Regions from separate parts of the Homo sapiens genome. Here regions 1, 2 and 4 are each linked to region 3. Evidence: fine-mapped expression QTL. A gene starts in region 3. Each other region holds a variant in brackets. All regions are shown on one strand. Distances are from middle to middle.

Region 1 (6,316 bases), 160 kb before region 3:
GAAGAAGCAAGTCTGAAAGTCTGGCTTCTTTCAGACTCAGCACGCCCTTCCCCCAGGCAGGATATGTTTGTAGTAAAGTCTTTTTGCCTGGAGTGGTCCTTTGATCTGGGAAGGCTCTGGGCATGCTATGGTTACTTTTCCACCCTTTTGCCAATCCAGGAGAGATTCTTTCTTGGCTTTTTATTTGAAAGCCTTAGTGGGATTCCTAGATATAAAACCAATGAAAGTACGAGGTCCCCCTGAGACTGCGGCCCTCAGGAGTTTCTTACTCTTACACCATCCTGAGAGCATTCGGAAATTCATCAAACTTGTGACCCTTCCAGTTTATTATTTCTGTGGCTTTCGTTCCTAGTGAGCAGATCTTAGCTGTGACTCTCTATATTCACCTGTCTCTCTAGATTTAAGGATTAATTTCCATAATAGTGGACTAAAGACGAAAAGTGAATAGATACACTTACCTCATTATCAGAAAACTGATTTGAAAGATTTGAAGAAATTTGTGACAAAAATCCTCAGTAACCTGGTATTGAAGGTAACCTCTTAAACTGATAAAAGGCATCTGAAAAGAAACAAAAACCAAAGAAATGCATTGGACTATGGAACAATTCCTATTTTACAAACCTTCTGAAACTTAAGGAAAGACATTTCCTGTTTATCTGTTCAATCATGCTATCTGCTCATTCTACTCCCTCACTCCCTGTCCTTTCTAGCCTTCCTCACTCTCCCTATATAACAAAAGCCCTTTCTGCCTGACCATTTAGAGGACTACAGGTATCATGCTTGGGGAAATTCTTTCTATTGCAATACTCTTTTTGAATAAGTTATCTGCTAACTCAAAACCAAGAAGAACAAAAACAAAAGCCAACAAAATGAACAAAAGACAAAACCCTGCAACTAATATCATAGTTAATGCTGAAAGCCAGAATGTTTATTCTGTAGATCTGGATCAAAAAGGATTATTCTCTCACCACCTCTATTTAGCCCCAAGCAGTGAAAAAAGGTAAGAAAAAGAAAAAGAAAATTCATTAAAAATGAAGAAGTGCAACTTTTCCTCACAAAATGAGTATCTACGTAGACATTTTGAGAAATCTACAAAACAGCTACCAGAGCTACTATGCTAGTTAAGAAGGTTGCATGATAAAAATAAGGCTGTTACATGGTATTAAAAAACAAATGGAAATGGAAAGCAAAAACAATATCATTTATATTATGTTACAGGTTGAACTGTGTCTTTCCAAAATTCATCTTTTGAAGTTCTAACCTCCAAGACCTCTGAATCTGACTGTATTTGGAGAAAAATCCTTTAAAGAGCTTATTAAGATAAAGTGAGGCCATTAGGATGGTCCCCAATCTAAACTTACTGATGCCTTATTAGAACAGGGATTAGGGCACGCAGAGACCCTGGGGGCACGCATGCACAGAGACGACCAGAGGAAGAGGCAGCAAGACAGTGTCCATCTGCAGCCCGAGGAGAAGATTCAGAGGAAACCAAGGCAGCTGACGTCTTGATCTCAGATGTGCAGCCTCCAGAATCGTGAGAAACACCCACTCACAGACGACGTGTTTAAGCTACCCCATCTGTAGTATTTTGTCATGGCAGCCTAAACAAACAAATACAGATTTGGATCAAACTCATGAAGTATCTACTGATTAATTTAACAAAATGAGCTTGGGGGTTGTGTACTGATATGTACTGAAATAACAAAATGTTTCTGAGAATCTTTTAAAGACTTAAAAATGGAGGGATATACCATCTTTATTGCTCAAAATACTCAATGTTGCTAAAAATACAGTGTTTTCTACATTGATCTAGATTCAGTCCCTGTCAAAATCCCTAGGAATACCTTAAAAATCAATAAGCTAATTTTTAAAATGTAGATAATGAAGTCCTATGGGGCTGGATGTCATATGTCTCTTACGAAATGTCATAAAATGATGAAGAAGAAGGTCTAATCTAAACGTCAACTTCGCAATGAATGTGGGGTGTCCACAAGAGGTTGCTGGATGACAGAAACAAGCTCTAGGCAGCATAGAGGCTGTCCCCACCAGGATATCTAGAAAGTCAGTCATTCAAAGCAAACTAGCGAGCAAATAACTGGAAATTACGTGAATATAATAAGAATATTACAAGATCAAAATCTGAAAATAAACTGTACCTCATCCCAACCCTGGAGAAGACCCCACTGAGTTTCATTTTGTTGCTGCTTCCAAGGGAAGCCTGAACTCGTAGGATGCTCATGAGGATGCCCCTGGCATCACTTAAGAATGAAACAGATGTTGAAAATTCGGTGCTCTTGGGAACTTTCTATACAGGCATCTCTCGTCATTTGTGAGAATCTGAAGGGACGTCATCTTCCCTGGAGGCTTAAATCCAGAGTGAGAGGAGAAAAGAAAGATCCAAGGGAAGTGTGATGGCTCAAGGACTTAAACAAATCCATGTTTCAGACCCCAAAGTCAGAGCACTGCATCTCCCAGTGTCCTTCTCAGTTGAAACTGGACTGAGATTATTACACTCAATTTAAAGAGTCTGTGTACACACACCAAAATTTAAGGTGTCACATGCAAATGAATGTCTAGGATCCATTAGTCACATATTATGGATGCAATAAATAAAGGTTTATTCTCATGAGACCCAGAAAGATCTCCTTTTCTGACTCACTGGAGGAAAAGGTGTGGCATCACGTCTCAGATCTGAGGTGAGAGTGAAGAGCTGGGTCTCCAGGGCTTAAAACCTATGAAATAAAATATAAGTACAAGTAAAAGTGTGACCTCCCAGGAGAGTCCCATATAGTCAATGAAAGTCTGTTTAAAGCTGCTTTAAAAGCCTTGCTCCTTCTTGAAGAAGGAAGTGCCTAATACAGAGGACATCAAGCAGAGCTTGGAGACTGCACAAAAGAAATAAATACTGATACGTAGAGGACAGAAATGGTCAATCAAAATCGTCGTGAGTTTAACCCGGGGAGTTGGGGTCTTGAAGCAGGAATCGGTAAGCATATAGGAAACTGTTTGCAGCATTCACTAGATCTCCCTAAGAATTGAAAACTAGAGCTCTCTTTGAACAAAAACTGTGAAAAGAAGTCCTAAATTACTTAGACATTTCATTTTTATTTTCTTCTCTTCTGAAATTATTTTGAAATAAATATAGAACTGTTTGGGAAAGCATTCTCACCGGCCTTTGTTATGAATGTTGCTTCTATTGATCTTACTCGAGAATGGAAACATTTTCCGG[G/A]GCTGAAGATTCCATATAGCCTTTGTTATGAATGTTGCTTCTGTTGATCTTACTCGAGAATGGAAACATTTTCCGGAGCTGAAGACTCCATATAGGCCTCCCCTCCCCTCCCCTCCCCTCTCCTCTCCTCTCCTCTTCCCCTTTGCTCTCTCATTCTCTCCATTCCTCATATTCTTGACAAAAGTGATAAAATTTGTTGTTAATATGATATAGAAATGGTAAAGAAACATATAAACCTGAACTTACCCTATCTTCCCAGCCTTCTTAGATACCCCTTGATTTTAGGATTATTTTGTGTATTATATGTATTTTCCCAGTTTTAGATTGATTGAGACTCAGATTGCATATTTTTATTTAATCATGTGGAATTTCCCTGGACCAAATAAGTATATAAATATAATGAGGCAAAGCTTTATTGTTATTAATGTTATCTGTAAAGAAAAGCACACAGACTTTTAAACTAATGCTATCACTCATTTCATATGTAAGCATGTGAAATAAGGTGAAATATAAATCAAAAATGAGACTGAAGGGATAAAAATCTAGCATTGGAGTCAAACATCACTGGGGTGGAAGGAACTCAAAAGGACACTCACTCACTCACTGAGCTACCCTGGCTGTCTCTAAAACACACAGGCTAATGCAACAGAAACAAGGATGGATGGTTTGCTAGTTTGGAGGTAGCTCTTGGGGTATTTTGACACTGCTCCAGGTTTTATTCCCCAGCAGGTCAAACAAAGGAGGCTTTACTTTTGGGGCTTCCATGAATTAGCTCATGTTATGAGTCAGGCTCTCCATTATTGCTCTAAAGCTAGGGCCAGTGCTTTCTCCAACAAGAAAGCCCAAAGTTTGCAACATAGTAAGAAATTTCCATTTGCTCATGAGTCTTTTCAACTTAAAACATTATTTTATTTAATTTTTGTAGACATAGAGGGGTCTCATCTTGTTGTCCAGGCTTGTCTCGAATTCCTGGCCTTAAGAGATCCTCTGGCCTCAGCCTCCTAAAATGCTGTGATTACCGGCATGAGCCACCATGCCTGGTCCCTTTTCAACTTTAAATCACTTGTTAATTTAGTTCTCAGAAAATCACTTGTACTGAAATGGACATATTCTATGAAGGTTAGAGGTACGACTGCTCATCCTGGAAAAGCTCTGTTTATTCTTGCTCATCCTCTCGGCTGTGTGTGTGTGCATATGTGTGTATAGAGAAGGAGGAGAATGTATGTTGTAATGGTCTGCTACATTCTCTTTCAGTTGAAAAACTGCTGAACAACAAAGTGAGACTCTCTTGTGTCTACAAAAATAAAATATTTTTTAAGTTGAAAAGACTCAAGAGCAAATGGAAATCTCATGCTATGTTGCAAACTTTGGGTGTTCTTGTTGGAAAAAGCACTGGCAGTAGCTTTAGAGCAATAATGGAGAGCCTGACTTATAGCTCAACATGAGCAAGTTCATGGCTGCCCCAAACTTAAAGCCTCCTCTGTTTGACCTGCTGGGGAGAATAAAACCTAGAGCAGTGTCTACATACCCTAAGAGCTACTTCCAAACTAGCAAACCGTCCATCCTGTTTTCTGTTCTGTGTGTTTTAGAGATGGCCTGGAAACCAAAGGGGAAAGTGAAAAAATTGCCATTGAAGTGATACTAAAGTAAAATCAAGAGAGGTTCTAAAGACAAGATGATCTGAGGGAAAAACATGGCCAAAACTCTCCCTCACGTTGGGGTGTGCGAGGGATCTCAGATGACAATCTCTGAATGTCTATCACATAAGAGGACACACTGCATCTCTGGTTAGATGCAGTAGATATCCCTGTCTGTCGCTTCCTGTGTTTAATTAAATCCTTCCTAGAATATTATGTTAATCATCTGGCTAAGTCTCAGGTTTTTGTTCTTTTCATGAAAAATGACACTATATATTTGAAAACTGATTTGTGAAAATAACGAGTACTTTTTAATTTTTGTGCTATGCTATGTATATGGACTAAAGAAAGAAAAAAATGATACTATAATCACATTTTCACCAAAGGAGTAAACTTTAATGCAAAAATGGGAGAATAATCTTAACATCCTTCAGTGAGAAGGGGATAGTAAATTAGAGTATCACCTGAGGATAATGACTATTTTAAATATTGCAGTAAGTAGCAAGCAGAAATTTCATTCACAACATTTAATACACACAAAACTACATTAACCGGGATATTTATACATGAAAATGTATGCCCTATTGCAGTTTTATATATAATTGCATAGCCAACCCTGTAATTCCCAAAGGAAATAAAATCACTCAAAAGTCATTTCAAGTAATGAGGGAGAGAAGTGAAGTTCTTTGCTTCTTTCACAATAAATCTTAGTCCAGGACTACTAAGTGTTAGACTGATATACCCACAGTTGTTTTACACCTGAGTCCATGAGAAATATAAATTGCTTGATATTTTTAAACTTTTTGTCTAGGCCTTGATGCTACACATACCTTCATTCAACAAATGAAGAAACAAATGATACTTTTTAATATTAGTATGACACTTATTTTCCTTTACTCCATAGGGCGCTTATAATTTTGAACTATGACCAATCAGACACAGATGATGGAATTCTTGCTTGTGAGATTTACTGAGAATTGGGTGCTCCTGAGGCTGCATGCTTTGCTCTTCTCACTGATCTACCTCACGGCTGTGCTGATGAATTTAGTCATCATTCTCCTCATGATTCTGGACCATCGTCTCCACATGGCAATGTACTTTTTCCTCCGACATTTGTCCTTCTTAGACCTGTGTCTCATTTCTGCCACAGTCCCCAAATCCATCCTCAACTCTGTCGCCTCCACTGACTCCATCTCCTTCCTGGGGTGTGTGTTGCAGCTCTTCTTGGTGGTACTGCTGGCTGGATCAGAGATTGGCATCCTTACTGCCATGTCCTATGACCGCTATGCTGCCATCTGCTGCCCCCTACACTGTGAGGCTGTCATGAGCAGAGGGCTCTGTGTCCAGTTGATGGCTCTGTCCTGGCTCAACAGAGGGGCCTTGGGACTCTTGTACACAGCTGGAACATTCTCTCTGAATTTTTATGGCTCTGATGAGCTACATCAGTTCT
Region 2 (6,316 bases), 270 kb before region 3:
TATATTGGTGTAAATTAATTAACCATAACTTCAGTATTTACTTTTCAAGATTTAAGAAAACCATTAAACTTGGATGAATGCATCTTCTCCATATCTGTCAATTTCCCCACCACAGTTAGTGTGTGTGTGTTTGTGTGTGCGTACATGTGTGTATCTGTGTATACACGTGTGCATGTGTGTTTGTGTGTTCATAAGAACTAGAAGACATCTTTAAAATTGGAATATATAAAAGTTATAAAGGCCCTCATTTGAGCATTTCCTGAGCTTTTCACTTATCCCTTAGTAGAAATACCATCTCCTTTAACAAGAGTTATTGATTCTAAGAAAAAAAGAAATTTCGTTTTGTCTACTGCTGATTTATCTTGCAGATATAAAAACTGGCAAAAGTAATTCATTTATTTGTATATCATTGGTTTAATAGAAGGATAGAAGGAAGTGAACTGGCTAGTATCTTTCATCCAAAAATCTTGACACTGGAAAACAATTTCCTAAATTTGTCTTGAATTTTCTTCCTCAGATGAAAAAACCATAACTGTATTAGCTTTACAACTTATAATTACTTTGTAAATATATTTGATTATTTTCTGTCGAAGTAGCACGTGTGTGCGTGCTTGGGTGTGTGTGTGTGTGCACTATGACTCAGAGTCAAAGTGAATGTATTTATACTAAATGGATATGTTCATTCATAGATATTTATTGATTGATAACTGTGCACTAAGCTAATCAGGGAGAAAGTTACCGTAGCAGAGAGAAGAAACAATTTTTTCCACTGATGAAATAATAAATAAACCAATTCAAATAATGCATAATTTATTGTCTGGAATTGTAGTTAAATGAAGAAGCATAGAGAAAGGTAAGAGGATAGAGAATGAAGTAGTATTGGATTCCAGTTTTTTAAATTTTTGATTTAATTTTTATTTTTATGGGTATATAGTAGGTGTATATATATGAGATACATGAGATATCTTGATAAAGGCATGCAATAAATAGTAATCACATCAGGGTAAATGGGGTATCCATGACCTGAAGCATTTATCTTTTGTGTTACAAACAATCCAGTTATAATATGTTAGTAGTTTTAAAATGTATGATTAAATTATTTTTGACTACAGTCATTCTGTTGTGTTAACAAACACTAAGTCCTAATAATTATTTCTATTTTTGTACCCATCAACCATCACTATTTCCTCCCCACTTCCCCCAACTACCCTTACCAGACCATGCTTCTACTCTCTAGCTCCAAGAGTTTGATTATTTTAATTTTTAGCTTCCACAAATAAATGAGAACATGTGAAGTTTGTCTTTTTGTGCTTGGCTCATTTTGCTTAAAATGATGAACTCCAGTTTCATCCATGTTGTTGCAAATGACAGGATTTCATTCTTCTTATGGTTGACTAGAACCCCATTGTGTATAGTTACCAAATTTTCTTTATCCATTCATCTGTTGTTGGACACTTGTGTTGCTTCCATTGTGTAACTATTGTGAGCAGAGCTGTAGCAAACATTGTAGTGCAGGCACCTTTTCAATACACTAATTTCCTTTCTTTTGTGTACGTACCTAGGAGTGGGATTGCAGGATTGTATGGTAACTCTATTTTTAATTTTTTGAGGAACTGTCAAACTGTTGTCCATAGTGATTCTACTAATTTACATTCTAACCCACAGTGTACAAGGGTTCTCTTTGCTTCACATCCTTGCCAGCATTTGTTATAGCCTGACTGACTTTTGGATAAAAACCATTTTATCTGGGGTGAGGTGATATCTCATTGTAGTTTTGATTTGTATTTCTCTGACAATCAGTGATATTGAGGACCTTTTCATATACCTGTTTGCCATTTTTATGTCTTCTTTTGAGAAATGCCTATTCAGATCTTTTGCCCATGTTTAAATCAGATTATTAGATTTGTCCCTAGAGAGTTATTTGTGCTCTTTATATATTCTGTCAGATGGGTAGTTTTCAAATATTTTCTCTCAGTCTATGGGTTTTGTCTTCACTTTGTTGATTGTTTCCTTTGCTGTGCCAGAGATTTTTAACTTGATGTGATCATTTGTCCATTTTTGCTTTGGTTGCCTGTGCTTTTGAGGTATTAGTCAATAAATCTTCAACCAGTCCAATGTCTGAGAGCATTCTCCAATGTTTTCTTTTAGTATTTTCATAGTTTGAGGTCTTACATTTAAGTCTTTAATCCATTTTGATTTGAGTTTTCTATATGGTGAGAGAAAGGGGTCTAGTTTTATTCTTCTGCATACGAATATCCAGTTTTCCCAGCACCACTTATTGAAAATGGTGTTCTTTCCCTAATGTATGATCTTGGCACCTTTGTCAAAATTGAGTTCACTGTAGATGTATAGATTTATCTCTGGGTTCTCTATTCTGTTCCACTGATCTATGTGTCTGTTTTTATACCAGAACCATGCCGTTTTGATTACTAAAGCTCTGTAGTATAACTTAAAGTCAAATAATGTGATTCCTCCAGTTTTGTTCTTTTTACTTAATAAATCTTTGCTATTCTGGGTCTTTTGTGGTTCCACATAGATTTTAGGACTTTTTTTCCTATTTCTGTGAAAAATGTCATTGGTATTTTGATAAGGATTGAATTGAATCTGTATATTACTTTAGATAGAGTGGACATTTTAACAATATTTATTCTCCTAATCCATGAACGTGAAACATCTTTCCAGTATTTTGTGTCTTCTCCAATTTATTGCATCAGCGTTTTATAGTTTTCATTGTAGAAATCATTCACTTCTGTGGTTAATTCCTTGGTATTTTATTTTATTTGTAGTTATTGTCTGGTCTGGTGTTGATGAAATTCGCCAGCTCTTGTTTTTCTGGAAAGTCTTCAATTCTTCTTCATATTTAACTAATATTTTCCCTGGATATGGTATTCCAGAATAAAAGTATTTTTCCTTCTGCACTGTAAACATGTCATACCATTCTCCTGGTCTGTAAGCTTTCTGTTGAAAAGTCAGTTCCTAGATGTATTTGAGCTTCATGGTATGTTATTTGTTTCTTGTCTCTTGCTGCTTTTAGGATACTTTATTTTGACCTTCGGAAGTTTATTAAAT[A/G]CCTTGAGGTAGTCTTATTTGGGCTAAATCTGATTGGTGTTCTATAACCTTGTACTTGAATAATGATATAGGTTTGGGAAATTCTATGTTATTACACCTTTGAATAAACTTTCTACTCCTATCTCTTTCTCTACCACCTCTTTAAAGCCAATAACTTTTAGAGTAGCCCATTTGAGGCTACTTTCTAGATCCTGTAGGCATGCTTCTTTGTTTCTTATAATTTTTCCTTTTGTCCCCGATATGGTTAGGCTTTGCATCCCCACCAAAATCTCATCTTGAATTGTAATCCCCACATGTCAAGGGAGAGACAAGGTGGAGGTAATTGAATCATGGGGGCAGATTCCCCCATGCTGTTCTCATGATAGTGAGTGAGTTCTCATGAGATCTGATGGTTTTATAAAGGGCTCTTCCCCCTTTGCTTGACTCTTCTCCTTCCTGCCATCTTTGAAGAAGGTGCCTTGCTTCCCCTTCCTCCATGAGGCCTCCCCAGCTATGTTGAACTGTGAGTCAATTAAACCTATTTTCTTTATAAATTACTGAGTCTCAGGCAGCTCTTTATAGCAGTATGAAAATGGAGTAAACTATCTCCTCTGTTTTCAAATAGCCTGTCTTCAAGCTCACTAATTCTTTTTCCTGCTTAATCAATGTGCTATTGGAAAACTCTGATGCATTCGTCAGTAGGTCAATTGCATTTTTCAACTCCAGAATTTCTGCTTGTTTTTATTTCAATCTCTTTGTTAAATTTATTTGACAGAATTCTGAATTCCTTCTCTGTGTTATTCTCAATTTTTTTGAGTTTTTTTCAACACAGCTATTTTGAATTCTCTGTCTGAAAGGTGACATATCTATGTTTCTCCAGAATTGATCTCTGGTGCCTTATTTAGTTCATTTGCTGAGGTAATGTTTTCCTGGATGATGTTGATGCTTGTGGATGGATGTTCATTTGTGTCTGGGCATTAAAGAGTTAGTTATTTTTTGTACTGCTCACTGTCTGAGCTTATTTGCACCCATCCTTTTTGGGAAGGCTTTCCAGGTATTAAAAAAGACTTGGGTGTTGTGATCTAAGCTGTGTTGGCTTTAGGGGGCACCCAAGGCCAGTAATCCTGTGGTTCTTGTAGACTCATAGAGATACCACCTTGATGGTCTTAAGTGATATCTGGAATAAATCACTGGATTACCAGAAAGAGACTCATGTTTTCTTCGCTTACTTTCTCTCAAACAAATGAAGTCTCTCTCTCTCTCTACTCTGAACCAGCTGGAGCTAGGAATGGGGTGACACAAGCACCCCTGTGGCCACAAGCATCAGAGTGCTCTCGATCAGACCTGAAACCAGCACAGGACTGAGCCTGGCTCGTGGCCTGCTATAAACACTACCTGGCTACTTCCAATGTTTTCTCAAGGCCTTGGGGCTCTATAACCAGCAGGTGAGAAAGCCAGCCAGGCCTGTGTCTTTCCCCTCAGGGCACAGACTTCCCACAGGCCCCTGCCAAGTCCAGAGGTGCCATTCAGTAGCCAGGGACTAGAGTAAAATCCTTAGAAGTCTACCTGGTGTTCTATTGTACTGTGGCTTTGCTGGCATTCAAACCACGAGATGCAGTTCTATCCCCTCTTCCCCCCATTTTCCACAGGCAGAGGAGCCTCAATCTGTGACCACTACCACCACGGCCCACAGGGAGTATTCCAGGATACTGAAAGTATTTCCTTAAGGCCAAAGGGCTCTTTAGTTACCTTGCGGTAAATGCTGCCTAGGATAGGACTTACTTTTCAGGGCAGTGGACTCTCGTTTGGCCCAGGATAGATCCAGAAATGCCATCGAAGAGCCAAAGCCTGGACTCAAAGACCCCAAGGACCTGCTTGGTTCTCTAGCCCCCTGTGGCTAAACCAGTGACAAAGTCCCCTTTACTTTTTCCTCTGCTTTTCTCAAGTAGAAAGGGTTTTTCTCCATAGCCCCTATAGCTGGGATGGTGCTGAGTTTTACCTGAAGGTAGCCAGTCTCAGAGTCTCACTGAAGGGCCACAAGATACTACCTGGGTATTTCTCCTAGTTATTCAGGGTCCAAGGGCTCTTTAGTTAGCAAGTGATGAATCCTGCCAGGACTGGGTAATTTCCTTCAAGGCCTCAGGTTTCCTTCTGGCCTAGGGTGTGTCTAGAATTGTCATTTTGGAACTAGGGCCTGGAAAGGGGGCCTCACGGCTTTGACTGATGGCCTATCTTACTGTGACTGAGGTGGTATCCAAGATGTAAGACAGAGTTCTCTTTACTCTCTTCAATCCTCAAGCAGAAGGAAGCAGTCTGTTTTGGAGCCATGAGCTGTGCAGCCTAAGGTTGCGGGGGTGATGTAAGCACTCCCTTGGCCACCCCAGATGATGTCTCAGTATGTCATATGCCCTCCAAGTTCCCTGGTTCTGAGCCCAGTTCAGCACTAGGACCCACCTAGGAGTTGCAGTCTTTGCAGTCTATACTGCCTTACAAGTTTTTATAGGATCCCAGAGCACTTTAGCCTACCATAGCGACATTTGCCAGAACTCAAGTTCCAACAGCTGGCATGTGTTATTCCCTTCTAGCTAGGGCTGATTTATCTGCTTCCTTTGTGGAAAGGTGTTAGCTGAGTTCAGTCCAGTTTTGCTTTCTGCTGTGGCAGGACAGCACTGAGTTCAATACAACGTCTCACAGTTGCTGTGCTATCCTTCTTACAGCACACAGATTCTCTCTTCACACCACATGGCCACTGCCAAGGGACTGGAGAGAGGTAATATCAAGGATTTAAGACTTTCTTTCCTACCTTCTTCAGTGTCTCTTTTATTAATGTGAGGTTAAAACCAGGTATTGTGAGTGCTCACTTGATTTTGGTTCTTATAAAGGTGGTTTGTTTTGTGTAGATGTGAAACTGGTAGAGGCAGGGGAGAAAATTAGTAGAGCCCTTTATTTGGCCATCTTATTCTTCCCCCTCAGTTTCTAGTTTAGATGGCATGCATGGAACTGCTTTTTGGTAATGTATTTGAGCAGAGACTATAACACATATAAGTAGAGATTGTCCTCCCCCCGCAGAAAAAACTTACATTTTATCCCATTGTGGATTTTTATGACTAAAATAATCTTAGTATAGATCAGTATACTTTTAAAAACACTGGTAACTATTCATTGTAGTCAATACCTAGGGAGATATAACAAACAGAGATGATCTGTGTCCTCAGCAAAGCTTAAAATTTACACTGTGAGTCCACATAAACACTTTCAATTAATTTGA
Region 3 (6,316 bases):
TTGTCTCTTTTGATCTTTGTTGGTTTAAAGTCTGTTTTATCAGAGACTAGGATTGCAACCCCTGCCTTTTTTTGTTTTCCATTTGCTTGGTAGATCTTCCTCCATCCTTTTATTTTGAGCCTATGTGTGTCTCTGCACGTGAGATGGGTTTCCTGAATACAGCACACTGATGGGTCTTGACTTTTTATCCAACTTGCCAGTCTGTGTCTTTTAATTGGAGAATTTAGTCCATTTACATTTAAGGTTAATATTGTAATGTGTGAATTTGATCCTGTCATTATGATGTTAGCTGGTGATTTTGCTCGTTAGTTGATGCAGTTTCTTCCTAGTCTCAATGGTCTTTACATTTTGGCATGATTTTGCAGCGGCTGGTACCGGTTGTTCCTTTCCATGTTTAGCACTTCCTTCAGGAGCTCTTTTGGGGCAGGCCTGGTGGTGACAAAATCTCTCAGCGTTTGCTTGTCTGTAAAGTATTTTATTTCTCCTTCACTTATGAAGCTTAGTTTGGCTGGATATGAAATTCTGGGTTGAAAATTCTTTTCTTTAAGAATGTTGAATATTGGCCCCCACTCTCTTCTGGCTTGTAGGGTTTCTGCCAAGAGATCCGCTGTTAGTCTGATGGGCTTCCCTTTGAGGGTAACCCGACCTTTCTCTCTGGCTGCCCTTAACATTTTTTCCTTCATTTCAACTTTGGTGAATCTGACAATTATGTGTCTTGGAGTTGCTCTTCTCAAGGAGTATCTTTGTGGCGTTCTCTGTATTTCCTGAATCTGAACGTTGGCCTGCCTTGCTATATTGGGGAAGTTCTCCTGGATAATATCCTGCAGACTGTTTTCCAACTTGATTCCATTCTCCGCATCACTTTCAGGTACACCAATCAGACGTAGATTTGGTCTTTTCACATAGTCCCATATTTCTTGGAGGCTTTGCTCATTTCTTTTTATTCTTTTTTCTCTAAACTTCCCTTCTCGCTTCATTTCATTTATTTCATCTTCCATTGCTGATACCCTTTCTTCCAGTTGATCGCATCGGCACCTGAGGCTTCTGCATTCTTCATGTAGTTCTCGAGCCTTGGTTTTCAGCTCCTTCAGCTCCTTTAAGCACTTCTCTGTATTGGTTATTCTAGTTATACATTCTTCTAAATTTTTTTCAAAGTTTTCAACTTCTTTGCCTTTGGTTTGAATGTCCTCCCGTAGCTCAGAGTAATTTGATCGTCTGAAGCCTTCTTCTCTCAGCTCGTCAAAATCAATCTCCATCCAGCTTTGTTCTGTTGCTGGTGAGGAACTGCGTTCCTTTGGAGGAGGAGAGGCGCTCTGCGTTTTAGAGTTTCCAGTTTTTCTGTTCTGTTTTTTCCCCATCTTTGTGGTTTTATCTACTTTTGGTCTTTGATGATGGTGATGTACAGATGGGTTTTTGGTGTGGATGTCCTTTCTGTTTGTTAGTTTTCCTTCTAACAGACAGGACCCTCAGCTGCAGGTCTGTTGGAATACCCTGCCGTGTGAGGTGTCAGTGTGCCCCTGCTGGGGGGTGCCTCCCAGTTAGGCTGCTCGGGGGTCAGGGGTCAGGGACCCACTTGAGGAGGCAGTCTGCCCGTTCTCAGATCTCCAGCTGCATGCTGGGAGAACCACTGCTCTCTTCAAAGCTGTCAGACAGGGACATTTAAGTCTGCAGAGGTTACTGCTGTCTTTTTGTTTGTCTGTGCCCTGCCCCCAGAGGTGGAGCCTACAGAGGCAGGCAGGCCTCCTTGAGCTGTGGTGGGCTCCACCCAGTTCGAGCTTCCAGGCTGCTTTGTTTACCTAAGCAAGCCTGGGCAATGGCGGGCGCCCCTCCCCCAGCCTCGCTGCTGCCTTGCAGTTTGATCTCAGACTGCTGTGCTAGCAATCAGCGAGATTGCATGGGCGTAGGACCCTCCGAGCCAGGTGTGGGATATAGTCTCGTGGTGCGCCGTTTTTTAAGCCGGTCTGAAAAGCGCAATATTCGGGTGGGAGTGACCTGATTTTCCAGGTGCGTCCGTCACCCCTTTCTTTGACTGGGAAAGGGAACTCCCTGACCCCTTGCGCTTCCCAGGTGAGGCAATGCCTCGCCCTGCTTCGGCTTGTGCACGGTGCGCGCACCCACTGGCCTGCGCCCACTGTCTGGCACTCCCTAGTGAGATGAACCCGGTACCTCAGATGGAAATGCAGAAATCACCTGTCTTCTGCGTCGCTCACGCTGGGAGCTGTAGACCGGAGCTGTTCCTATTCGGCCATCTTCGCATGTATTTATTTTTATTTGTCTTAGTTTGGGAGTACTGTTTTGTTACCTCCACGTATGGATTTATATTAATTTGCGAGTACTGCTTTTTACCTGCACATACATGCTTATATCTATTTATATTAATTTGGGAGTACTGCTTTTTACCTGCACATACATACTTATATCTATTTATATTAATTTGGGAGTACTGCTTTTTACCTGCACATACATACTTATATCTATTTATATTAATTTGGGAGTACTGCTTTTTACCTGCACATACATGCTTATATCTATTTATATTAATTTGGGGGTACTGCTTTTTAGCTGCATGTATTGCACAGTGGCGAAGTCTTGGCTTTTAATGCATCCATCACCCAAACACCAGGATGGACCAAGTCTCCCTATATCCATCTGTAAGACTTGTGGTTTGTCTTATCAAATATGCTTTGCTTTGAATGTGATGTGGTATTAGAGTTGGAACGTGATAGAGGTTTCTGTACATATGCGTGAATTTTGCATTACAGTTGTAATATCTGTTACAAAGTTTTTTCAATCTCTTTTATCCTCTCAAGCAGTATATAGTACTTTGGAAGAAAAACCCATACACTCTATTTGTTCAATACCAGGCCCATTTAAAAGACAGAGAGAAAAAAAGAGATTTTATGTGTATTTTGCCTGTCTCTTACATTATTTATCTACTGAGGTAATTTTAAAATTAAATTAAATTAAATTCTGAGGTAATTTAAAAATTACCTCAGTAATGGTAACCCAATGAATGAGGTGTGTCTTTGAGACCAGTAATAGATAAAGTACTCTGTGTGTAAAGAGTATTTCCTAAATACTATTGATGGATTATTTTGAGGCTCCATTTTGAGTCCTTGAGGTTTTTGGCAGGAGCCTAGGGACTGGAGTCTCTAGAAAAATTCGTGGTTTGGCCACAGCAGGATTTGCCTTCACTTCACTGGATTTGGAGGCAGTGCTACTGGTGGTTTAGATTGCACACTCTCAGCTACATTGCCGGGGTTCAGAATCAGCTCTGTGTCTTCCTACATATCACAGTTTGCTCAACACACATGTGTTTCAGTTTCCTTTTCTATAAGTTGGGAGCTAATAATAATAGTGCAACTCCATATAACTGTTGGGGTTGAATGAATAAAATAAATATAAAAAGCATAGAAGAATGCTTAGCTTCTAGTAAGTTCTCCCTTAATATCAGCTGTTATTATTATTATTAGGATTGATATTTCTGTTCAGCAGCAGTAGAGATGGATGGAACCAATGGCAGCACCCAAACCCATTTCATCCTACTGGGATTCTCTGACCGACCCCATCTGGAGAGGATCCTCTTTGTGGTCATCCTGATCGCGTACCTCCTGACCCTCGTAGGCAACACCACCATCATCCTGGTGTCCCGGCTGGACCCCCACCTCCACACCCCCATGTACTTCTTCCTCGCCCACCTTTCCTTCCTGGACCTCAGTTTCACCACCAGCTCCATCCCCCAGCTGCTCTACAACCTTAATGGATGTGACAAGACCATCAGCTACATGGGCTGTGCCATCCAGCTCTTCCTGTTCCTGGGTCTGGGTGGTGTGGAGTGCCTGCTTCTGGCTGTCATGGCCTATGACCGGTGTGTGGCTATCTGCAAGCCCCTGCACTACATGGTGATCATGAACCCCAGGCTCTGCCGGGGCTTGGTGTCAGTGACCTGGGGCTGTGGGGTGGCCAACTCCTTGGCCATGTCTCCTGTGACCCTGCGCTTACCCCGCTGTGGGCACCACGAGGTGGACCACTTCCTGCGTGAGATGCCCGCCCTGATCCGGATGGCCTGCGTCAGCACTGTGGCCATCGAAGGCACCGTCTTTGTCCTGGCGGTGGGTGTTGTGCTGTCCCCCTTGGTGTTTATCCTGCTCTCTTACAGCTACATTGTGAGGGCTGTGTTACAAATTCGGTCAGCATCAGGAAGGCAGAAGGCCTTCGGCACCTGCGGCTCCCATCTCACTGTGGTCTCCCTTTTCTATGGAAACATCATCTACATGTACATGCAGCCAGGAGCCAGTTCTTCCCAGGACCAGGGCATGTTCCTCATGCTCTTCTACAACATTGTCACCCCCCTCCTCAATCCTCTCATCTACACCCTCAGAAACAGAGAGGTGAAGGGGGCACTGGGAAGGTTGCTTCTGGGGAAGAGAGAGCTAGGAAAGGAGTAAAGGCATCTCCACCTGACTTCACTTCCATCCAGGGCCACTGGCAGCATCTGGAACGGCTGAATTCCAGCTGATATTAGCCCACGACTCCCAACTTGCCTTTTTCTGGACTTTTGTGAGGCTGTTTCAGTTCTGACATTATGTGTTTTTGTTGTTGCTCTTAAAATTGAGACGGGGTCTCACTCTGTCACCTAGGGTAGAGTGCAGTGGTGCCACCATAGCTCCTTCGACTATTGGGCTTAAGCGATCCTCCCCCACCTCAGCCTTCCAAGTAACTGGGACTACAGGTGTGCATCACTGGCAGTGGGAATTGTGGCTTGTGGCTTTTCTGTCTTCTATGGAGACGGGGTCTTGCTGTGTTGACCAGGCTGGTCCCAAACTCCTGGCCTCATGTGATCCCCCTGCCATGGCCTCCTAAAAGTTCTGGGATTACAAGTGTGAGTCACTGCGACTGGCCAACATTATGTGATTTATGTGTGAACTATATAACACAAATCATCCCCAAAACCCATCATGATCTGTAAAGCAGCTGCAAAGAATGAAGTGAGACAAACAGTTGTAAAGATGAGTTTCCACCTACTTATACCAGAGTGCTAAGAGGAAATAACTCTTCTCAATCAGAGCTTTGCTTTGTTTGTTGTTGTTTGCTTTAAAGTCTAACACACCTGACATGTTTCAGTCAGAATGACCCCAAATGCATCACTGTTCTCCACGTGGTCCAAGTGCCTCTCTGTTTAGGGCCATCAAATCATGGAATGCAGCACAGTTTTATATTTTCTATATTCCCAATTCCTACCCAAACCTTTTCATGAAATCGTAGAGTTTGTTTTACCCTTTATCTGGTGTAAGATTCTGCATAAACCAAGAAGTGAACCTGTAAGTTATGATGCATGGGTTGTTTAAATCTTAAAGCATCATTCTTTCTCAGGCATGTTTTTTTCATTATTAGTAAGAAGAACCTGACATTGGTTTAGTCCCTTCTGTGTACCAGACGCTCCTAAGTCATGCAACCTCAGTATTTGTATGAGGTCAGCATGATTATCATTATTCCCATTTTATCTCCCTGGTCCTTGAGATCTGAAGGTTAAATCTTTTGCTCGAGGGGAACTGAACCAGGGTTTTTTCCAAGTTCTGTCAGACTCCCGATTCATATGGTTTCTATTGCATCATGAAATTTCAAAGAGCAAAAATCCTTAAGCATTTGGCACACAATGTCAAAGACCCTTTGGGGCTAAGGGGCATGACTGGCTACTGTTCCTTACACATTGCAGTCCTCAATGTGTCCCACTAACGTGCCCTCCAGTTATCTGAGGTCTTGTTCCAATGCAATTCCAATTCAGCTGGTGATAAGAGGGGTCTGAGTTTCTGCGACTCTGCAAACCTCCCAGGTGATGTCCCTACTTTGGGGACTCGGACTACATTTTAAGAACCCAGGAAGTATATCACCCCCTGCTCTTGTTCCGGGCATTTGGAGGGTGGACACATTCTGGAAAAAGTTGGGAGAGTGTTCATAGACCAAGGGCGAACACAAGGTGAGAGGGAGTGGTGTGAAAGGCCAGCTGAGGGGTGGTCCTCATTCCTCTGCCGTTGCTCCTGTGCTCGGCTCCCTCCTCCTCCACAAGTGTATTTCTGCGCTCTTTTGTATCCTCCTCACCTCCACACCTCACATCTAAAGTCACCAGCCCCAGGGCATTGTGTAAGTGTAAACAAACCAGAGCCCCAGAGAGGGGGATTCCTGTGCTTCCAGAGCACCCCCTCTGACTATTCAAGGATGCTGTTTGTAAGAAGTACTGATGTGGATGTGTAGTAGGAAGAGCCGCAGACAAAACTCCTCAGACACCGAGTTAGAGAAGGAAGGGGTTTATTCGACC
Region 4 (6,316 bases), 50 kb before region 3:
TCTCACCATACAAAAAAGAAAAATTGAGGTGATGAATATGTTAATTGGATTGATTGTGATGATTATTTCACAATGAATACATCTACGAGAACAAAGTTGTACACTGTAAATATATAGTATACAATAATTATCAACTACACCTCAATAAAGCTGGACAAAAACTCAGAAAACTAACAATAACAACAAAGCTTTAAAAAAAATCCTGCACGGCCGGGCGCAGTGGCTCACGCCTGTAATACCAGCACTTTGGAAGGCCGAGGCGGGCGTATCACGAGGTCAAGAGTTCGAGACCAGCCTGAGCAACACAGTGAAACCCCGTCTCTACTAAAAATACAAAAATTAGCTGGGTGTAGTGGTGCCTGCCTGTAATCCCAGCTACGTGGGAGGCTGGGGCTGGAGAATCGCTTGAATCCGGGAGGCGGAGATTGCAGTGAGCCAAGATCGCACCACTGCATTCCAGCCTGGGTGACAGGGCGAGACTCCGTCTCAAAAAAAAAAAAAAAATCATGCACATGTGGAAGCAAATGCCTTTCCCTTCTCATCTGTGGGCTTTGTCTGAAAAAGAAGCCAGACACAGCACATCTCCTATGCCATCTTGGGAAAGTGTATATATTCCACCCTCAAACAATATTTATTAGTCCCTGCTGTGTGTGTGTGTTTGTGTGTGTGTGTTTGTGTGTGTGTGTGTGTGTGTGAAGGCCTGTGCTGAACTAATCTGCCTCACTCCACTGGTGTCCTTTCTTGCCTCATCCGATACCATACTCATGCTCAGCCACTATAATTACACCCTCGTGTACACCTTTTATTCTTTCATTTAATTCATTGTCTATAGTTCTGGATAAAGTAAACATCCACCTGCCATACAGGAGCTTCTGTGAAGTTGAGGGAGTGAGACAAGCAAGAATAGAACCTCTTTAAAATGTACAACCAACAAACTCAGTGTGCCCTTACTGCTGGAGAGCAATCATTCTGTATTTCCCTTATAAACCAAAAATAAAATTCTAAACCCCACAACTGACTGAGCGGACTCCTCCTTTCAGCCAAGGGGATTTCAAAGAAACCTAAAAATTCTGGTTCAGATCATGATGGGAAGAGGGGGTTGGACAAACCTCATTACACTCTCCTTTCTTCAGAATTCAGGCATAACTGAGCAGCAATAACATCAAAAAAGAGATTTTAAGGCTGACGAAACAGACTCTGTAGAAATAAGCTACCAAATTCTAACCTGACTCTAGTATAGCATCATGACAGACAGCCGACCCTGAAGGAAATGGAAATATTTTACCACAAAATATATTTATTTGTCATATTTAAAATGGCCCTGCAAAGCTGTCTCTTGTGGGGGAAATCTACATTCTGCGGAGAATCCCTTTCCCTCTCCAGGCCTTTGTCTGATCCTCAAGAGATTAGCTGAAAGTCTAGCACCTTTTAAAGGTCTCAATAGAACATTTTTCCCATCTGCTGCTTCTCAGGCTGGCAACATATGAGACTTCATCTACATCATAAGAACCTTGGTTTCCCCAACCCCCCTATCTTAACCCAGATTCTCCTTTCTATTGATTCCAGGTCTTCAGACAATAACTTAATTCTTTCAACCAGTTGCCAATCAAAAAGTCTTTGCATCCACGTATGACTGTAACCTTCCCCCATTCTTGGAGCTGTCCTGCCTTTCCAGACCAAACCAACGCATAGCTCACACGTACTGATTGATGTCTTATGTCTCCCTAAAATGGATAAAGTCAAGCTGTAACACAACCACCTTAAGCACATATTCTCAGGACCTCCTGGGACTGTCACAGATCATGGTCTTTAAATTTGGCTCAGAATAAACCTCTTCAAATATTTGTTACAGACTTTGGTTTTTATCAATACCCGTATCTATTCACTCTTCCAATCTCCTAAGTGACTATTTCACTTATGTTGCTCTCTTTTCGAACGTCTAGCACATCCCTGTTGCTCTGTACCCTCAGTAAGAGACTTATTTCACTGGAAGATCCTGAAATCCTTCAGTGGAAGTATCCACAAGCTCAGGCCACTAAATTCTGCCATCGACTACCTTTTGTTCCTGTGCACCTACTCCCTACACTTCCTCTGAGTAAACTATCTGTGTCCAAGTCTAAGGCAAATCCTTCCACCTGGGCATTAGGCGCCATAACCTCCTACACACTGGAAAGGTATTGCAGGTGACAGAGGCAAAACTATTCCTATCCAAAAGACTCAGGAGTGTTGAGCTGAAGAAGACGAACACACAGGGGACCTGCCCCTTCCTCTGCTTTCCTGAAGGCAGGACCAAGATTTACAAAGACAAAGGTCTTCCTGCCTCCCCTCTGCCTCTTCCCACCTGAAGACAGTCTCCTTTATAATGCTTGCTTCTCAGCTCAGACAGCAACGCCAGGGATCTCGGAACAGACTACTCTTCCTGTAAATTTTCCTTCCCAAATGTCTTGCTTTTGGGAAGCCTGAAGATGCCGTTTTTTTTGTTTTGTCACCGTAGAGGATGTATGGCTCCTTGCTAAGATACTATTTCAGCAAGGCCTCAAAGCCACTGCTTCCAAACCGTCGCAACAATCTAGGTGAGCCGTTTTCCTGAGAGAGCTGCTTTCTTTCTTGTGGATGGGCATGACATGCATAAATAAACATGCTTGTTTTTCTCTTGGTGATCTGCGTTTTGCTCATGAAAATCTGTCCTAGCAGTGAATTTAATGAAAGTCGAGAAGAGAAATTCTTTTTTTCTCTCCTTCACTGGGTATTCTCAGCTTCATGCCTGAATCACCCATGGTGCCCTTTCTGCCAAAGCATTTCCTCAGCATGTCAATGGGCTGGATTTCTCTCCCCCACTTTAAAAAGACAAAACAGAGAAGAATGTCTAGAGGCTTTGCTGTTCTCTGAATACTACCTGCACTTTTCTGCTCCCTTTTCCCGATGCTTTCCCTTCTGGAGGGCACTGTCCCTCCCTGCTGCTCCTCGTCCTCTGCCTTCTTGCTCGCTGGAATGCACTATGATCAGGATGTTTTTCTTGCCACTGCCCCAGACGGCGCAGCTGTGCTGGCATTGCCCTCCAACCACCCATCGCATTCCCGATCCTCTTCATCTGTGGCATCATCGCACCATTGATCCCTCCCTCTTCCTGGATCCACTGGTCACTTAATATCCACAACTACATACTCTCTTAGATCAGCGACAGCCCTGGTTTTTCACACTTGTACAGGGCTTCGTGTCTTTCAATCTACCTTCATTTCCTTCACAGTTTCAGGCAGTCTCTTGACTTGAATGCTGTCACTTTGCTCTCAGCCCTCAAATTTATGTCTCAAGCTTGAACAGAAGCGTCCTGTAAAAACTGCCCTATGTGAAATGCTCACTCATGACTAGTCAGCATTTGCAATTTAACGAGACCTAACTTAGCTGACCAGCACTCCTGACTACCCCAGCCTCCCTCAGTGCAGCCTTCCCATCTCCATCCTCCCACTTGCTCAGA[C/T]CAGAAACTCTGAATTTGACTCTTGTTCCTTTCAAACCCAATGTCCAATTTTTCAGCAAAATTGACTGGCTCCACCTGAAAATGTATTCAGAACTGATCTGATCACCATTTACGACCACCATCGCTTGCTGCCTGGAAAAGGCACCACTATCTCTTATCTAGATTGTTGCAATAGTTTCGTTAAAGCACCTCCACGTCCAGCCTGCCCCACTCAAGAAAGCAGTCAAAGAGAATATTTTAAAACACGGGAGAGTTTTTGCAGTGAACACAGATGTACTGTGAATTGTTCCTGAAAAGGAAGAAAACATTGTGACCAGACAATCCACATATTCACCTCTGCAGTTTCCGCTTTGTCAGAATCGACGTTCTGTTGACTTGCTGTTTCTGTTCTTCATGTCTGTTGCAATTCACTATTTCTGCTCTGTTCTACGTTCTCCTCTCATTCTTGGCCAAGTCACTGGGAATATTATTTTCATGTAGCCAGGAAATAATTATATCAAGAGAAAATAATATCTTAACATTATTGCACATGCTAAAAAGAGTATAATACTGAATGTGTCATATATATTGAACTATATAGTACTTGATTTCTTCAATAAAGCTTAAGAAACAAAAACAAAAAACCAACCAACCAACAAACAAAAACAAAGCCTTGACAGGTTACCCAGCCCTGCTTGTTCTCTCCTCCCACAGCCTCACCAAACTCTTAGTCTACTTTCTTCTTGGTCCGTTCTGCACCCAGTGCTTCCGCCTCCTTTGTATTCTTCAAGTTACCTGAAACGTGCCTCGTTTTCTCCTTAGCATGTTTAGTTCCCTGCAACGTTGTCATTGAACAGCTTTGTATGGCTCATTTCTCATGTCCTTCCAGTCTGCTCAGATAACACCTTCTTCTTTAGGCCTGATCTAACTACTCTTCTGCCATTCTCAGAATTTATAAGAGTCAAGATAAAAGTGTTAAGTATATGTTGGTTTGAAGGCAAAATATTCCAGCAGTTCTGGCTTGAAAACACTGAACGAAAACTAAGAGATGTGAGAAAATTGTTATTTGATCCACATAGATTGATTTATTCACATAGATTATTTATTCAGCCGGGCACGGTGGCTCACGCCTGTAACCCCAGCACTTTGGGAGGCCGAGGCGGGTGGATCACTTGAGGTCAGGAATTCAAGACAAGCTTGGTCAAAATGGTAAAACCCTGTCTCTACTAAAAATACCAAATTTAGCCAGGCGTGGTAGGGGGCACCTGTAGTCCTAGCTACTCAGGAGGCTGAGGCAGAAGAATCACTTGAACACAGGAGGCGGAGGCTGCAATGAGCCGAGATCGCGTCACTGCACTCCAGCCTGGGTGATAGAGCGAGACTCCGTTTCAAATAATAATAATAATAATAATAATAATAATAATAATAATAATAAATACTCTTGGTAAAACAACAATGCTTTCTTGGAAAATGGTTCCTTTTTGCTTTGGCTTTCACTTAGTATTTTATAAGAATATGACCATGGTATTCAATTTAAAATGAACATCCACAGAAAAATAAGTTAAACATGGAGCGCAATGAGGGTCTCCTTGATGAGACCACAGTGAAAACAAAACAGCCCTTTATTACAATAGGCTAAGTTTACAGGACACTGGGCTCAGATCCTAGTTTTCTAAAGTACCTCCCACAATTCATATCCAAATGCACAAGGAAAATGAACTGTTGTATAATCATCGCTTCATGGTTAAATCCTTTCAGTAATGAAGAGCTCACCACCTTTTGAAATACTGATTGTTTTTTTTTTTAAGAGACAAGGTCTTGCTTCGTTGCCCTGGCTGGAGTGCAGTGGCACAATCATAGCTCACTGTAATCTCAAACTTATAGGCTCAAGTGTCCTCCTGCCAGGGTGGCTAGGACCACAGGTGTGTGCCACCATGACTGGTTAATTATATATCCACATATTTTTTGTAGAGGTAGAGGTCATGCTATATTGCCCAGGCTGGCCCTTAACTCCTGGCTCCAGTGATCCTCCTGCCTTGGCCTCCCAAAGTGCTAGGATTACAGGTGCTCTGGGCCTGATTACTTAAATACTGACTATTTCCAAGTGCTAGAATTACTTTAATTACATTGAGCTGGAAAAAAAAAATGCTTCCCAAAAGACTGGGTTGGCTTTAGCTCTAGGGCAACAAGGGTAACCTCAGATTTAACTTTGTAGCTTTCTTTGAAATAAAAATAATTACGAATGTTGTTGTTGGGGGCAGTGGCTCACGCCTGTAATCTCAGCCTTTTGGGAGGCCGAAGAGGGTGAATCACCTGAGGTCAGGAGTTTGAGACCATCATGGCCAACATGGTAAAACCCCGTCTCTACTAAAAACACAAAAATTAGCCAGACATGGTGGCGGATGCCTGTAATCCTAGCTCCCTGGGAGGCTGAGGCAGGAGAATCACTTGAACCCAGGAGGCAGAGGTTGCAGTGAGCCGAGATCATGCCATTGCACTCTAGCCTGGGCAACAGAGCAAAACTCTGTCTCAAAAAAAAAAAAAGAAAAAAAAGAATGTTGTTGTTCTTAGATGCAATCTTGCCCAGAGTAAACTAAATGGCCTTTTGACTTCTCGAGAACTCTTGATTAATTGTCTGTTATTACAGTTTTATAATTTAGGCAAGATCATTTACTGTTTCCATAAAGATAGAGAATCTGCAAAGGCTAAAATTGCCTTGATAATGATGAATAATTTATTGAAGTCGATGTATTTTTAGAATCTAACATACACAATCAAAACAAGGACATTTATGTTATTTGACAGTAAAATACACACCACGTTGATTTTCTTCTTCTCTGCATGAACTCCCCCTACCTGTCT

Evidence for each region. PIP is the estimated chance that this variant, and not a neighbour inherited with it, causes the effect. A credible set is the group of variants that fine-mapping cannot tell apart.
Region 1: its variant is the best candidate, but not a certain one, in a credible set for the expression of OR2W3 in testis (GTEx, PIP 0.58).
Region 2: its variant is the best candidate, but not a certain one, in a credible set for the expression of OR2W3 in breast (GTEx, PIP 0.66).
Region 4: its variant is the best candidate, but not a certain one, in a credible set for the expression of OR2W3 in sun-exposed skin (GTEx, PIP 0.71).

The regions. Positions count from the first base shown.
Region 1 is chr1:247,732,825-247,739,140 of GRCh38, forward strand. OR14A2 (olfactory receptor family 14 subfamily A member 2) reads right to left here. Exons shown (of 5, transcript NM_001355292.3): 2 at 2,660-2,732; 3 at 1,362-1,601; 4 at 459-559. It overlaps OR14K1 (olfactory receptor family 14 subfamily K member 1), which reads left to right and starts at 5,791. Exons shown (of 1, transcript NM_001004732.2): 1 at 5,791-6,316. The coding sequence starts at 5,791. The variant G/A (reference allele first, on the strand shown) is at 3,230.
Region 2 is chr1:247,623,635-247,629,950 of GRCh38, forward strand. The region is part of intron 2 of LOC102724446 (a long non-coding RNA gene); the gene reads right to left. Among named protein-coding and RNA genes, the nearest start is that of OR14L1, 9.6 kb to the left of the region's middle. The variant A/G (reference allele first, on the strand shown) is at 3,070.
Region 3 is chr1:247,892,084-247,898,399 of GRCh38, forward strand. OR2W3 (olfactory receptor family 2 subfamily W member 3) reads left to right here and starts at 3,504. Exons shown (of 1, transcript NM_001001957.2): 1 at 3,504-4,448. The coding sequence starts at 3,504. The coding sequence ends at 4,448.
Region 4 is chr1:247,842,206-247,848,521 of GRCh38, forward strand. No RefSeq gene overlaps it. Among named protein-coding and RNA genes, the nearest start is that of OR11L1, 3.5 kb to the left of the region's middle. The variant C/T (reference allele first, on the strand shown) is at 3,476.